Linked DNA regions of Homo sapiens: region 1 is linked to region 2. The links come from fine-mapping of genetic effects on gene expression. A gene starts in region 2. The other region holds a variant in brackets. All regions are shown on one strand. Distances are from middle to middle. Region 1 overlaps LOC105378250 (a long non-coding RNA gene). Region 2 holds the start of PRR13 (proline rich 13).

Region 1 (8,330 bases), 410 kb before region 2:
CTGGGGCATACACATGCACACACACACACACACGCACGCACGCACACACACATACATACCATGTGACTGCTAGCAACTTAAAACAAAAAAATTTTAATTGAATTTCGGGGCCTGGGGAAGATCTGAACCTATAATTATTTCTTAGCAAACTTGCTGAACACAGGGTTTTCCTCCTCTGAGACGAGATGAGACGGGTAGCATAATGAACCCTCTTTAATTAAAAAATAAAATGTTTTAGGATAATCATATTCTTCTAAGTTACATTATTTTTTTAAAGGAAAGGACAGATCGTGAGAAAATGTCCATTTTCAAGTGCCCCATGTTAGGCTGCCTCAAATGGACTAGTTTCTCATTCAACCCTGTAGATTCAAAATTAGATCCTTAGGGAGGCACTTGAGTCCTTGCATTATTCCTAACATGAAGCTAACTTTTTTTTTTTTTTTTTTGAGACGGAGTCTCGCTCTGTCGCCCAGGCCGGACTGCGGACTGCAGTGGCGCAGTCTCGGCTCACTGCAAGCTCCGCTTCCCGGGTTCACGCCATTCTCCTGCCTCAGCCTCCCGAGTAGCTGGGACTACAGGCGCCCGCCACCGCGCCCGGCTAATTTTTTGTATTTTTAGTAGAGACGGGGTTTCACCTTGTTAGCCAGGATGGTCTCGATCTCCTGACCTCATGATCCACCCGCCTCGGCCTCCCAAAGTGCTGGGATTGAAGCTAACTTTTTAAAAACCCTTTCTGTACTCCCACTTCTCTTAAATGCAATAGGCAGGTTCAATGTCAATTGATTCCAGCCAAGCAAAGCAGTGGGGAGGGAGCAAAAGTCAGGGTACTGAGAAACAGAGACTCCTGGTCCAGCAGCTCTCTGACATAATTTTGTGGGATTCTCTAATAGAGAAGTGGAATGTTCACGTTCCCCATTAGAGAGCTCTTCCCCAGTTTCTTTGGAGATATTTGGGATGTGAGTAGATAGACAGAGGTGGGAAAACACTCATTTAGATCTTAAGTTGGAGGGAGGCACAAGCTCTGATGAATTGAAAATGTCTCTCTTCAGGCAGGAAAACTAGACTAAGACAGAACTGGGGGAGAAGTTTTGCCTGAGTTCTACCTCTCAATGTGTGGGTTGGTGGCCTTGGGGGACAATGATCGACCACCAAGATAAATATGAGAAATCCAATTCAGGAGGTTTCTTTTCAGTTTCACCATTCTCATTTTCTTTGATTCCTATTTCCTATTCTACTACTTCTGGGTGCAGCCCCCCTAAAGCAAAAATTTCTGAATCCTAATGAAGATATCTTTATTCAAGGGAAAAAGTAATATATTGGAAAATTTAAATGGAAATCTGTTTCCCCCGCCAAGCTTTTCCTACACTACTTTTCTGAAAAGAAAGAGTAAAGCAGCCTAAAACCTATTACTATAGTTTACACCAAAAATGATCTCTGATAGAATCTACATATTAGGATGTGTCTATACCCCCCCCCAGAGCAGGTATTGTGTCCTCTTGTAGGCAGCTTCTTTCACCTCTTAAGATACATTACAGCCTTTCCTTAGGCAGTATAAATCTGTGTTCTTATAGTTCTGAGATTGTAGTGTCTAGCCACTTGGGGAAACATCTACACTTCAAGCTACATTTAGACAAACACACATGCACACACCCACACACATCCCCTCCCTATATCCATATCAGACACCTGTGGTGCATTCACTGGTTTCAGATGCACTTACACCGGCTACCTGGGATTCCTCTAAATTCCTACTTATGAATTTAGAAAAGGCAAAAATCATGTAGGCAAGCATTAGCTCCCAACAAGAGTGTAGACATGGATAAGTAAAGGTAGTGAGAGTGGGAAACCCATTTTATGAGATTTTATAAGACAAAATAGGGTAAGGACACACACATACACGCACACACAGTCCACATGCACCAGAAACACTCACCTGCTGTGGCTGAATGCAAAACTGAAGAGGCTTGGAAATCTACCGGTGGGGAGGGGCCTCACAGTCAACAGCCCAGAGAGCTTCGCCCTGCCCGGGTCTACACCTGCCCAGAGAGAATTTTGGTAATTTTAATAAAACCAAATTAAATCCTAAAGTAAGCCTAGTTGGTGATTCAGGAGGGATAGCCCCAGACCATTATAGGATAGCTATAAAATAAAAAATAATATATAGATGGATAAGAATAGGAGCAAAGCAAATAAAATCATTTTAATGGAGGAGAAAGGGAGCATGGCAGAGAAGAGGGAAAACTGCCAAGTGTGAAGAAAAAGTTGCTTACAGGATTCTCCAGGGTAGGAGAAGCTCTCTGGCCACCTTTTCTTTTTGTGGCTTTTGAGATGGGGGCCTGCAGAAGACAGAAAAGATTGGCACAAATCCTGGGATTTGTGCATTTGTAAGGAAAGCAGAACATGCTTCAGTAAAAAATGCCTCTCTACATAAAACAGAGAGGCAAAGAGGTCTGTGGTGTTGGAAATAGTGGAGGGGTGTGGAGGGCAGCAAGCCATTGACATCCCTGCTGTCAAGAAATGTATCTTTTAATTAGAGGGACAAGTTTGTATGCAAGACACTTGATGGATGTTGGCACTTTATGTAAGCATGTTTTACTTAGTTTTTCATGACATCTTATGAAATGTATAGTGTATTACTTAATTTAGTTGAGGAAACTGAAGCTCAAGGGGTTAAGCAATTTGCCCAAGGTCAAAAAGCTAGAATGTTGAAGTTCTAGGATTTGAACCCAGGCCTGGCTTGCTCAAAGCCTAAGCATGTTCTTTCTATTGCCATGAAAGAGACCAAATGTAGTGCCGATGTTTCCCAAGTAGATACAGATCTGGAGGGATGGTCAGTGTGTCAGCTTGTCCAACTTACCGCTCTTTGTGCAAAATCCCTGCCCTACTCCCTGGAGCCCCTTCCCTCACCCGAGAACTATCGTGGGCAGGGCCTCTTTGGCTGAGGTTGTCTTCTTTCTCCCTCACCACCCTTCACAAGAAGAAGACATCAAAGATTGCGCAGGGTCATAAAGAGAGGGAGGGTGTTAGAAGGGAGGAGCCACCCTGGGCTCATAAACTAGGCGGGGTTGGGGGGACCCACCCATTTGTCAGGCAACTCTGCATCTCACTTTCCCCAAAAACTGACATCTCAGCTCTTGCTTCAGGGCAGGGTGCTTAAGCAAAGTGCGGGTGGTGGGAGTGAAAGGAGGCACATGGGAGCGATTGGAGCACCGGGTCATTCTGACAGAAATGGCACCTCCTCTCCACCCGCACCCTGTGAGGCTGAGACATTTACGTGGATTCGTTTGGTTCTTGTTTCAGTTCTGCTGCTCTGTGGCCTTGAGGAGCTTCTTCCTGTCCTCTCATCTCTTCACCTTGTTCTGGGGTAAATCATCTCTGGACCGCCTTACCTGCTGAGCAGCTCACTGGAGACCACACCGTGGAGGCACACCACACAGAACAGCCAAACTCCCCAGGCCACAACCAGGCTACACCTCCTGAAAGACAACTGGAGAACCAAAGAGCATCAGTCTTTGTGGCCTCCCTGTACCATCTCCTCCTACCATCAGAGCATACCAGAGCCTCCAAACTCTTCTTGGGTAGTGTCAGAACCTGCAACGGTCATGTTAATTCAGTAAAAATGTCTGTGTCTTAGATCTGAGTGCAGTCGCCTCCGTTGACCTTTGAGCTCCCTAAGGACAGAAATCAGGTCTTAGCCCTAGAGGGTTCCTCCACTGAATGGAGAGCTCTGCACATAGCAGGGGCTCTTGAAATGGCATCACCAAAGTCGGTAAGAATCAAGAGGTTTGTTCTCCTATGCAAATTGGATAGTCCAAATTAAAATTCCCCTTCCTCCTGATTATTTTGATCATAGAACTGTTTTTTTCTTCATCAACATAGTCATCAGCAAGCATTTATTGAGCATTACTGGAGGGCTATGCTTGGTGTTTGGTACAAGAGATGTCAGGTCCTGCCATCAAGAGACATAAAATATACATTTTAATATACACAGAGTTTCTCAGCTCTGCCACTTTCCGGTCATGGGATGCCAGACAAATTTTTTAACTATTCTTTGTTTCTTATGTTAAAATGAAGAAAGCAAAAGCCCCTACCTCACAGGGTTGATGTAGCAATCTAATTAGATCGTGCATATAAAGCACCAGTGCCTGACACATAGTAAGCACCCAATAAGGTGGCTGTGGGAAACCAGCAAAAGTTTCTAAGCAGAAAAGTGGCAGAGAGAGAGAGAGAGAGAGGTGGAGATTGGAAAGCTTTACTCTACTCCCACTAACACAGAACTAGTGGGATAACAGCAAAAGATATTTAGATTGGGTCTAAGATAAAGTTAATAATAGGTGAATCAAATACTACATGAGCTCTTGTTCCCCTGACATCTTTAAGAACTGGGCATCCCATTTAAAAAAAAAAAAGAAGAATGAAATTATGTCCTTTGCAGCAACATGGATGCAGCTGGAGGCCATTATCCTAACCAAATTAACACAGAAGAAAACCAAATACCACATGTTCTCACGTATAAGTGGGAGCTAAACACTGAGTACATATGGACATAAAGATGGAAACAATAGACACTGAGGAATACTAAACGAGGAAGGAAGGCGGGGATGAGGGTTGAAAAACTACCTGTTGGGTACTATGCTCACTACCTGGGTGATGGGATCATTCCTACCCCAAACCTCAGCATCACACAATTCCCCCATGCAACAAACTTTCACGTGCACCTCCTGAACCTAAAATAAAAGCGGAAATTTTAAAAATTAAATAAATAAATAAATAAAAGAACAGGGCATCCAACCACGTGTTAACAGTATGGCCTAGAGATGGGACCCTGGACAGATTAGCCTCTGGGGATTACTTCTAAATAAGACTGCTTAGAATGTTCAAAACTTCAGCAATTAAATACTATCTGCATGTAAATGATGGCATTTTTTTCTCATTTTTCTTAATATTTATCTGAC[C/T]TTACAGTTAGATTTACTGTGTATTTTACACCTGATATCTTTTGGGCCCCAGGCCAAGGTCATCTTATCCTGATTCTGTGAGTTAGGAACACTTCTGTGAATTAGAAATTCTGTATTCCCCATCCTGAAAAGTTCTTCAGAAAGGGCTCCCTAACTCCTTTTTCCATAGTTGGACAATAAAAAGACTTTCAGCCTCCTTGTAACAGTCACTACATTTTGATCAAATGCCAACTGGGTCACTTACTAGTTTTGTAACCTTGAGGAACTCACTAAACACTCTGTTCCTCAGTTTTCTCATCTGTAAAATGTGGGTAAGAATTCCAAGCACACAGGTTTATCATCGAATGATGATAAATGACAACACTTTGGAACTGTAAAATGCTCTTTAAATGTTAGTTATTATTATTACTACAATGTTTCAGTATTATGGAGAGAGAGAGAGAAAAGGAGGCAGTTGGCAGGAATTGTGACACCAAACCTCTTTTGATTTACATAGTTTGATTTATACATTTGACTTTTTTCTAAATCAAACAGTATTTTTGAAATCCTCAACAAACTGAAACACTGGTGTCTGCCAAGTGGGTAGCACCTGGGAGTTTAGAAGACTTCGTTGAAGTGACTGTTGTGTGGCGTTCAAAGGATGAAGCATTGGGGGTCTCTCATAACATACTGCAGGTTAGGTCCTGCAACTGTCAGTTCCTAGCTGGATTTAAAGAACTTTTAACCTCCAAACCCGGCAAAGGATGCTGGGACAGGAGCTAAATCTGTAATGGGAGGGGTGTGTAAATTCTGCTCCAAGGTGTGAAAATAAGGCCTAGAGGGAAGACATCAAGCAACCAGGCACCCTCCTTCCCTGAAGTCCTATTTATAGTATAAATAGTAATAGTAGGATTGGCAGATACGGGCTAAGGATAGGGAAACAAGGAGCAGAGCTTCTCTGAGCCCCAAAGACAGCAATTGCAATGAACTACATGTGTTTAGAGTCAGGCTGATGGCTGTCTTGCATCCTCAAGGAATAAACAATAATAACCCCAATCATCATCTCTCGATGTCAGAAAATAGTCATTAGTGTACTGCTCCTTCTAAACCTTCCCCAAGAGTAAGGCTCAGAGTTGGTCCCATTTTGTAGATAGAAAACTGACGCATCATGACTGATGCTAGCTGGGATAGGTACCAAGTTCAGGAAAAAAGTCCAGGTGTTTCCAGTTGCTATTTTATCCACAAGCACATGTTTACCCCCATAAAGATCTCTATCCAGCCGCAGTGGATGCCTATCTGAATTTTGGCAGTGACTGCAGTGGGAGGGTGGTGGAGTAGCATGGGCATTGCCATGAGAGGGCACAGGGCAGAATGGGGCAACCTGGCATCCCTCAGGGGGATGACGCTTGGGGGGATAACGCTTAGGGGGCTGGACTAGGGCACCTCTCACGTTTGGAAGCTTCAAGACTCTGCATTCTCAATGATTTCATCTCTCCATAATTTCCTTGCAACTAGCAACAAAGAATTTCTAAGTTCCAAGTATTTCCTCTTGCTTTGACTGAGTCTTGTGAAATCTAAAAGGACAGAGGAAAGAAGGACCCTCAGGACAGAAGACTTTCTCCCTTCTCCCCCAAATTATGGAGAGGGGCAGTGGGGCACACCTTATTCTAAGCAAGCCTGTTTACCAGCTGCCAGCCCAGACACCCTCCAACAAAATGCCATGGAGAATGATGTTGTGACTCATGGCTTGGCAAGTACCAGGATTATGCCCCAGGCTCCCAGATACCACACTGGCTCCTCCAGGTCGCTCTGGCTGGATCTCCTCCTCCGTTGCCCCAGAGGCATTCCTCATCTTGCCCTCTCCTCCCCAACCCCTCCCACTCTCAAATCATTCCAGGTAGTGGGTGTGGGGGACGGGAGAGGTAAGCAGGGTTAGAATTGGGATTTGGGTTAGGGTTAATTTCAGGATCAGGATTAAAGATAAGGTTAGGGATAGAGCCAGAGCTACTTTGTAGGATTTGGTTTAGTCAGTGGACTTTTAGCTGGTAGAAACAGAACTCTGCTAACTTACAAGTATTCAAGTCTTGGGTTAGCCGCCAAGATGTCTTGGTGACAGGTCCACTTTTCTTGGGCTCAGATTAGAAGGGTTAGAATCTAATTTAGAAAATAGGAAATGTCAACACTTAAAGATGTAATCAAGAATCACCTCTAGGAATCTAAGCAGAGGCTTTCTGGAATGCCTGGAATGTCTGGAAACATTCTAAGGGTTGTTGATACTTTAGAACCATTAAATCCATTCCCCAGGCATTGTGCAGTATTTTGTGACTTTACCTTGACCTCAGTCTTAGAACTTTCTAGTATACTCAAGAGTCTTTCTTGGATTTCTTTCCCGAGTCCTTTCCTTGTCTTATTGAATGAATTGTTCCTTTATCCCATCAGCATTGAGAATGACTGGGGGAGTAACTGAAGAACCAAGACCCTGATATTTGGGTATCTTGGGTGCCACCTTGGCAGAGAGGTACCCAGCAAAGCATTCTGCGTCTTCCCAGACTGAGACATCTGTCAGCACAGCTCAAGAGGTTCTCCCTCAGGCAAAGGACAAGACATACAGCAAGTTCTGAGCTCAATTTCTGAGGGCAGGAAGAAAATAAAACTAGGAAAACTGCAAGGGCAGCAGGGAGGTATGGAGCAGGAGGCTTCCCAGGAAGTCATGGGAGGCATTCAGGAGAAGTTGGAAGATAAACCAGAGTGGTATTATGGGGTTGAATTCCTAGAAACTCATACTTAGAGACTGTTCACACACACACACACACACACACACGCACATGCACACATATCAACACCTCCTTACATGAGGAGCCCAACCCAGTAAGGTGAACTAGCTGGCAGCCCACCCACTACTGGGCAACCAAAATCTCTTCCATTTGAAATGGGGCCTCAGTGTCTCTTCCTTCTTTCCTCACTCTCCTTCCCCACATCTGGCTCCTTTAGTGCTTGGAGACCCTTCTGTGGAGGGACTAGGAGGGTACGAAGCTGGCTAAGCCCAACCTCAGCTGCCTTCCCCATAAGCAGCAGCAAGATGGTGATGAGCTGCCCCCCTCAAGGCTCAGAGGCGAGGGATTTTTTTTTCTTTCAAACATGTCACATCTGGCACATCTGCTTTCTTAGCAATGATGCATCCCAAGGGGTATAATCAACACTTGGGGCGGGGCTCAGATGCAGGTCTGTACTTACAGAAGCCTGAGCCAGAGACGCCGAGAGCAACACTTAAGAGCACCAACTGCCCCCACTCCCCATCCACTGCAGGAGCTGAAGATCAGCTCCATCCCTGTGCACCTTTCTGCCTTAGAGCAGGTGCCCTCCTCACAGGCCACACATATTTTAGGGCACAGAAGA
Region 2 (8,330 bases):
TTGCTATTTTTTGTTTGTTTGTTTGAGATGGAGTCTTATCTGTCACCGAGGCTGGAGTGCAGTGGTGAGATCTGGGCTCACTGCCATCTCTGCCTCCCGGGTTCAAGCAATTCTCCTGCCTCAGCCTCCTGAGTAGCTGGGATTACAGGCATGCGCCACCACACCCAGCTAATAATTCCCAAGTGCTAGGATTACAGGCATGAGCCATGGCACCTGGCCACCCTTACCAATTTTTAACACTCCTCTAAAACAAAGATACTTAGCCTTGGAGCTGAGTATAAAACCTCCTTAGGGCTGGGTGCAGTGGCTCACGCCTGTAATCCCAGCACTTTGGGAGGCCAAGGCGGGCGGATCACAAGGTCAGGAGATCGAGACCATCTTGGCTAACACGGTGAAACCCCATCTCTACTAAAAATACAAAGAATTAGCCGGGCGCGGTGGCGGGCGCCTGTAGTCCCAGCTACTCGGGAGGCTGAGGCAGGAGAATGGCGTGAACCTGGGAGGCGGAGCTTGCAGTGAGCCGAGATTGTGCCACTGCAATCTGGCCTGGGCTAAAGAGCGGGACTCCGTCTCAAAAAAAAAAAAAAAAAACCTCCTTAGTCCTAGGCTTTGTTAGAAGCCTAGTCACTGACTGCTCTTGTCCTCACTTTTTCTGCTGGATGATAGGGCAAAGGACCCATGTAATTAACACAACGCCCTAAGAACACTGATGAAAGAGAGAAGGAACTTCTGGAACTAGGGACAGATTAATTCTGTTAATTATTATAAGACCTTGCTTTGTCAAAGGAATGACTTTGGTATTTTGACAATGTCAGTGGGCGTGTCCAACTTGCTAGAATATGCACCTGGCGGGAGGGGAGCAAAAGTTCTGGGAGAGTAGGGCAGAAAAGATTTGGCTTTTGATTCTAAAATCCATTCTAAGGCTCACCCTAACTCCCCCCAGATAGGAGAAGCCTGATGTTTATTTTCAAGATAATCAGATTCTTCCCAGTAGCAATCTTTTATAAAAAGGAAGAATCATCTACCAGAGCGACACAATTGTCATCCCTCACGTCCACAGAATGTGAATCCCCCTCACCCAACCCCTGCCTACCTAGTCCCTCTGAGGGGGGACTCCTTCCCTAGCCAGTCTCCAGAGGGTACTGACCTTGCCATGCTTGTGGTACTTGTGGTGCTTTTGGTGCTTGTGCATCTTTTTATGAGCTTTCTTCATTTTCTTCTGCATCTTCTTGTCTACTATCACTGCTGGTCCAACCATGCCAGGAGCCAAGGGATTCACAGGAGGGATTCCAGGGGCAGGCGGTGGGTATGGAGGAGGGTAGGGACCCAACGGTTGGCATCCTGGATACCCTGGCTGTGGCACAGGATGAGGGGGCCCACCTGGGGGGAAAGCTGGATTGCCATGGGGAGCTCCTGGGGGAGGAGGACAGGGGCCTGGGGGAAAGGGTGGATTAATAGGTGGTGGGTGGGCAGGATTGGAACCTCCAGGGCACCCAATATTGGGGGGATATGGATTTGGCCCTGGCTGCCCTGGTGGAAGAAGCAGAGAATAAACATTAGAATTCCCCAGAGTCTCCAACAACAAACAACAAAAAGAAAGAGATTCTTTCTCACTCAATACTTAAAGGGAAACGGAAAGATGACAAAGAAGAATGGAGGGTAGGGGAGACAAACTTGAGTTGGGGAGAAAAGGGGGAATGTCCCTGGAAGGGCTAGGGAGAGGAGGGAGACAGTGAACTCTGAGGAAGACAAAAGCACTGGTCAGTCCAGGCGCGGTGGCTCACGCCTGTAATCCCAGCACTTTGGGAGGCCGAGGTGGACAGATCTCATGAGGCCATGAGTTTGAGACCAGCCTGGCCAAATTGTGAAACCCCCATCTCTACTAAAAATACAAAAAGTAGCCGGGCGTGATAGCATGCGTCTGTAATCTCAGCTACTCCAGAGGCTGAAACAGGAGAATCGCTTGAACCCAGGAGGCGGAGGTTGCAGTGAGCCTGGGCAACAGAGACTCCATCTCAAAAAATAAATAAATTAAATTAAATTAAAAAGCACTGGTCAGCTCTAGACTAAGGACTTTGCTTTTGCGGGTACAGCAGGTCGGGGGTAGGGGAGCTGATACAGAAACTTCCTGTTATAGAGCCCATCAGAAAAAGGGTTAGGGGTGGAACAGAACCCCCAAACACCTACCGGCATTGGGATTCCACATGTTTAGGTGTGTCCTCCAGCCTGAGGAGAAAGAAATGAGGCAAAAAAGATGACGGTCTAGAGGTAGGAAGTGGACTTAGCACCGGAGCCCAGCCCTAACGTCTTCCACCCCACAGTAGGCTCTCCTACCTGGAGAACTACCACAACTTCCACATAAGAAATGTCTCTTTTCTGGCTGGGCGCGGTGGCTCACGCCTGTAATCCCAGCACTTTGGGAGGCCGAGGCGGGTGGATCACGAGGTCAAGAGTTCGAGACCAGCCTGGCCAACATCGTGAAACCCCGTCTCTACTAAAAATCTAAAAATTAGCCGGGCGCGGTGGCGGGCACCTGTAATCCCAGTTATTCGGGAGGCTGAGTCAGGAAAATTGCTTGAACCCGGGAGGCAGAGGTTGCAGTGAGCCGAGACCGCGCCACTGCACTCTAGCCTGGGCGACGGAGCAAGACACCGTCTCAAAAAGAAAAGAAAAGAAAAGAAATGTCTCTTTCCACTTGTTTCTTCGCCCTCAATACCTACTTGGTTCCTAACACAGGAATCTAGTTCCCAGGGCCCCTCCACCCAGGTGGAAGCGTCTAACTCTTCGGAAGTAGGCAGTACCCGCGAGTCTCGGCCCCACCATCACTCATCTCCCTTTCCCTGGAACTGAGTACGGAGGCCTTTAACCACGCACAGAGTAAGAAAGGATCTCAAACAACTTTCTCTCTCCCTGGGGAGGACCCCACCTCAGGCTAAAAAAAGGATACGCCTCGAGGCGAAGTAAGAAGGAAGTTGCCCAAGAACCTCAAATACTTAAATATGTGGACACAGCCCCCTTCCTCCAAAAAAGAAAAAAGGCAAATGAAGATCCTAGCCCCAAGCTGCGAAGAGACTCTTGACCTAGCAAGGGGAAAAGGAAAAACCTATGGAATCCAGATACCCCATCACCTTTCCACCGCCGCCTGGGCTTGCTGCGTTCTCCTTCGCAGTCTCGGCTCTTCCTAGTCACCCAGACCCCGTGCTTCGGCACCCGCCTCTGCTACTGCCTAATTGGTAATTATGTGGCCGCTCGACTGATGATTAGACAACAAACTAATCAATCACTCTGGTCCGACTGAGGAGGAAACGGTTGCTCTAGGGGCGGAGCGGAGCCCTTTACGGCTAGGCCAGTACCGAGAAGCCGGAAATCTCCTGGGGGCGGGGCTAGGCGGAGAGCGCTGGAGGGGGCGGGGCCAGCTGCTGGGCAAAGTCCTAGAGACACCGAGAAGAAACTCTTCCCTTGCTCTCTTACCTCATGGTTCACTGGGTGCAATACCTTGTAAAATGAATACACTATGGTAAGTGTTGTAATACAGATATAGACAGAGTTCTCGGCAAGGGCAGAAGAGCTGCTGAGTCCCAGCCCCAAGCCTCAATGTTCCCGGCTCCGTCTTACACTCGCAAGGGAAGCAAACAAACATTCTTGCGGAAGATACAGAGATTTCATAATCTCTCCCAGGATTCCCTCTCTCAATTGCATAGCTCCGCCATCTGTCAAGTAGCCTAAACCAGAAACCAAGGAGGGCGTCCGTGATCCCTCTGCCTCCTTCACCTCCCTTACCCCAAATTATCAGTTTTGTCTCTCAAATATATCTGGAATCTCTCCACTTCTCTCTGTCTTCCCTGCTCCAAACCTCCCATCATCTGTCGCCTGGATTCATCTCTCCCCTGAATTGCTACAATGGCCTCCCTACAATGGCCTCCCTTTTTTTTTTTTTTTTTTTTTTTGAGACGGAGTCTCGCTCTGTCACGAGGCTGGAGTGCAGTGGTGCGACCTCGGCTCACTGCAACCTCCGCTTCCCGGGTTCAAGCGATAATCCTGCCTCAGCCTCCGAAGTAGCTGGGACTACAGACGCGGCTAATTTTTCTATTTTTTAGTAGAGATGGGATTTCACCATGTTGGCCAGGATGGTCTCGCTCTCTTGACTTCGTGATCTGCCCGCCTCGGCCTCCCAAAGTGCTGGGATTATAGGCGTGAGCCACCGTACCCAGCCTTTAAAAAAAAAAAAAAAATACAAGTGGCCGGGCGCAGTGGCTCACGCCTGTAATCCCAGCACTTTGGGAGGCCGAGGCAGGCGGATCACAAGGTCAGGAGTTCGAGACCAGCCTGGCCAATATGGTAAAACCCCGTTTCTACTAAAAATACAAAAATTAGCCGGGCGTGGTGACATGTGCCTGTAATCCCAGCCACTTGAGAGGCTGAGGCAGGAGAATCGCTTGAACCCGGGAGGTTGCAGTGAACCGAGATCACGCCATAGCACTCCAGCCTGGGCAACAGAGCGAGACTCCATCTCAAAAAAAAAAAGAAAGAAAGAAAGAAAGAAAGTGAGCTAGGCATGGTGGCACATACCTGTAATCCCAGCTAGTGGGAAGGCTGAGGCATGAGAATCGCTTGAACCTGGGAGGGAGAGGGTGCAGTGAGCCAAGATCATGCCACTGCACTCCAGACTAAGCAACAGAGCAGGACTCTGTTTCAAAAAAAAAAAAAAAAAAAAGTGGGATACAAAAAAATTTAAGACAATAAATTTTATGCCAAATATGTCATATTAAACTAAAGCATTTGAAATATTTTAAACTTTTTTTCTTTTAATTTTTATTTTTAGTGCTGGGGTACATGTGCATGATGTGCAGGTTTGTTACATAGTTAAATGTGTGCCATGCTGGTTTGCTGCACAAATTTTGCTGCACCAATAAACCCATCAGCTAGGTATTAAGCCCAGCATGCATTAGCTATTTTTCCTAATATTCTCACTCCCCTGACCCTACCCCCCAACAGGCCCCAGTGTGTGTTGTTCCCCTCCTTGTGTCCATGTGTTCTTACTGTGTAGCTCCCACTTGAGTGAGAACATGTTCCTGCATGAGTTTGCTGAGGTTAATGGCTTCCAGCTTCATCCATGTCCCTATAAAGGACATGATCTCATTCCTTTTTATGGCTACATAGTATTCCATGGTATATATGTACCACAGTTTTTCAGTCTATTGTTGATGGGCATTTGGATTAATTCCATGTCTTTGCTATTGTGAATAGTGCTACAGTGAACATACACATGCATGTATGTTTGTAATAGAATGATTTATATTCCTTTGGGTATACACCCAGTAATGAGATTGCTGGGTCAAATGGTATTTCTGGTTCTAGATCTTTGAGGAATCGCCACATCGTCTTCCACAATGGTTGAACTAATTTACACTCCCACCAACAGTGTAAAAATGTTCCTATTTCTCCACAACCTTGCCAGCATCTGGATTTTGGTTTTGGGTTTTTTTTTTTTTTTGAGACTGAGTCTTGCTCTGTCGCCCAGGCTGAAGTGCAGTGGCAGGATCTCAGCTCACTGCAACCTCTGCCTCCCGGGTTCAAGCGATTCTCCTGCCTCAGCCTCCCGAGTAGCTAGAATTACAGGTGCCTGCCGCCACACCTGCCATATATATATACATATATATATTTGTATTTTTAGTAGAAACAGGGTTTCACCATGCTGGCCAGGGTGGTTTCAAACTCCTGACCTCAAGTGATTCACTCACCCTTGGCCTCCCAAAGTGCTAGGGTTACAGGCATGAGCCACCAGGCCTGGCCTGTTATTTCTTGACTTTTTAATAATCACCATTCTGACTGGCATGAGATAGTATCTCATTATGGTTTTGATTTACATTTCTCTAATGTTCAGTGATGTTGAGCTTTTTTTCATGTTTGTTGGCTGCATATCTTCTTTTTTTTTTTTTTTTTTTTTTTTTTTGAGACGGAGTCTCTCTCTGTCGCCCGGGCTGGAGTGCAGTGGCGGGATCTCGGCTCACTGCAAGCTCCGCCTCCCGGGTTCACGCCATTCTCCTGCCTCAGCCTCCCAAGTAGCTGGGACTACAGGCGCCCGCCACTACGCCCGGCTAATTTTTTGTATTTTTTAGTAGAGACGGGGTTTCACCGTTTTAGCCGGGATGGTCTCGATCTCCTGACCTCGTGATCCGCCCGCCTCGGCCTCCCAAAGTGCTGGGATTACAGGCGTGAGCCACCGCGCCCGGCCGGCTGCATATCTTCTTTTGAGAAATGTCTGTTAATGTCCTTTGCCCCCCCCTTTTTTTTTTGAGACGGAGTCTCGCCCTGGCCCCGTTGTCCAGGCTGGAGTGCAGTGGCACGATCTTGGCTCACTGCAAGCTCCGCCTCCCAGGTTCGCACCATTCTCCTGCCTCAGCCTCCCGAGTAGCTGGGACTACAGGCACCCGCCACCGTGCCTGGCTAATTTTTTATATTTTTAGTAGAGACGGGGTTTCACCCTCTTAGCCAGGATGATCTTGATCTCCTGACCTCGTGATCCGCCCGCCTCGGCCCCCCAAAGTGCTGGGATTATAGGCGTGAGCCACCGCACCTGGCCTTTTGCCCACTTTTTTTTTTTTTTTCCTATCTCTTTTTTTTTTTTTTTTTTAATTGATCATTCTTGGGTGTTTCTCGCAGAGGGGGATTTGGCAGGGTCATAGGACAATAGTGGAGGGAAGGTCAGCAGATAAACAAGTGAACAAAGGTCTCTGGTTTTCCTAGGCAGAGGACCCTGCGGCCTTCCCCAGTGTTTGTGTCCCTGGGTACTTGAGATTAGGGAGTGGTGATGACTCTTAACGAGCATGCTGCCTTCAAGCATCTGTTTAACAAAACACATCTTGCACCGCCCTTAATCCATTTAACCCTGAGTGGACACAGCACATGATTCAGAGAGCACCGGGTTGGGGGTAAGGTCATAGATCAACAGCATCCCAAGGCAGAAGAATTTTTCTTAGTACAGAACAAAATGGAGTCTCCTATGTCTACTTCTTTCTACACAGACACAGCAACAATCTGATTTCTGTATCTTTTCCCCACATTTCCCCCTTTTCTATTCGACAAAACCGCCATCGTCATCATGGCCCGTTCTCAATCAGCTGTTGGGTACACCTCCCGGACGGGGTGGCGGCAGGGCAGAGGGGCTCCTCACTTCCCAGAAGGGGCGGCCGGGCAGAGGCACCCCCCACCTCCCGGACGGGGCGGCTGGCCGGGCGGGGGCCGCCCCCCACCTCCCTCCCGGACGGGGAGGCTGGCCGTTGCCCACTTTTTAATGGGGTTGTTTTTTTCTCGTAAATTTGTTTGAGTTTCTTCTAGATTCTGGATATTAGACACTTTGGCAGATCACAAAAATTTTCTCCCATTCTGTAGGTTGCCTGTTTGTTCTGATGATAGTTTCTTTTGCTGTGCAGAAGCTCTTTAGTTTAATTAGATCACATTTGTCAATTTTTGCTTTTATTGCGATTGCTTTTGGTGATCCCATCATGAAATCTTTGCCCATGCCTATGTCCTGAGTGGTATTGCCTAGACAGTGTTCTTTTATTCTGAAATAATTTTAGACTCACAAGAAGTTGTAAAATTTACCCAGCTTCCCCCAGTGATAGTATCTTACATAACAAGACTATCTTTTGACTGAGTGGGGTGGCTCATGCCTGTAATCCCAGCACTTTGGGAGGCTGAGACTGGTGGATTCCCTTGAGCTCAGGAGTTCGAGACCATCCTGGCCAACATGGTGAAATCTTGTCTCTACAAAAAATAGAAAAATTAGCTGGGCATGGTTGTGTGCGCCCATAATCCCAGCTACTTACGAGGCTGGGGTGGTAGGATCACTGGAGCCTGGGAGACAGAAGTTACAGTGAGTCAAGATCATGCCACTGAACTCCAGTCTCACTCACAGAATGAGACCCTGTCTCAAAACAAACAGGCTGGGCACGGTGGCTCACGCCTGTAATCCCAGCACTTTGGGAGGCCGAGGCGGGCAGATCACGAGGTCAGGAGATCGAGACCATCCTGGCTAACAGGGTGAAACTCTGTCTCTACTAAAAATACAAAAAATTAGAGGGGCGTGGTGGCTGATGCCTGTAGTCCTAGCTACTCAGGAGGCTGAGGCAGGAGAATGGCATGAACTTGGGAGGCGGAGCTTGTAGTGAGCCAAGATCATGCCACTGCACTCCAGCCGGGGTGACAGAGGGACACTCCATCTCAAAAAAACAAAACAAAAACAAACAAATACTACATTTTGATATATTTTTATATTAGGTTTGTGCAAAATACTTGAAATAATTTGGAAGGTTTTCTAAACTCTAGGA

What was found. PIP is the estimated chance that this variant, and not a neighbour inherited with it, causes the effect.
Region 1: its variant is fine-mapped to the expression of PRR13 in tibial artery (GTEx, PIP above 0.99). The same link has a PIP of 0.9 or more in tibial nerve.

The regions. Positions count from the first base shown.
Region 1 is chr12:53,844,016-53,852,345 of GRCh38, reverse strand. LOC105378250 (a long non-coding RNA gene) reads right to left here. Exons shown (of 5, transcript NR_189099.1): 2 at 3,390-3,487; 3 at 1,934-2,036. Among named protein-coding and RNA genes, the nearest start is that of HOXC13, 91 kb to the left of the region's middle. RefSeq lists an enhancer at 2,874-4,073. The variant C/T (reference allele first, on the strand shown) is at 4,956.
Region 2 is chr12:53,436,591-53,444,920 of GRCh38, reverse strand. PRR13 (proline rich 13) reads right to left here and starts at 3,187. Exons shown (of 4, transcript NM_018457.4): 1 at 3,129-3,187; 2 at 2,188-2,226; 3 at 1,148-1,530. The coding sequence starts at 2,206. RefSeq lists a silencer at 3,190-3,339 and enhancers at 3,630-3,719, 3,450-4,215.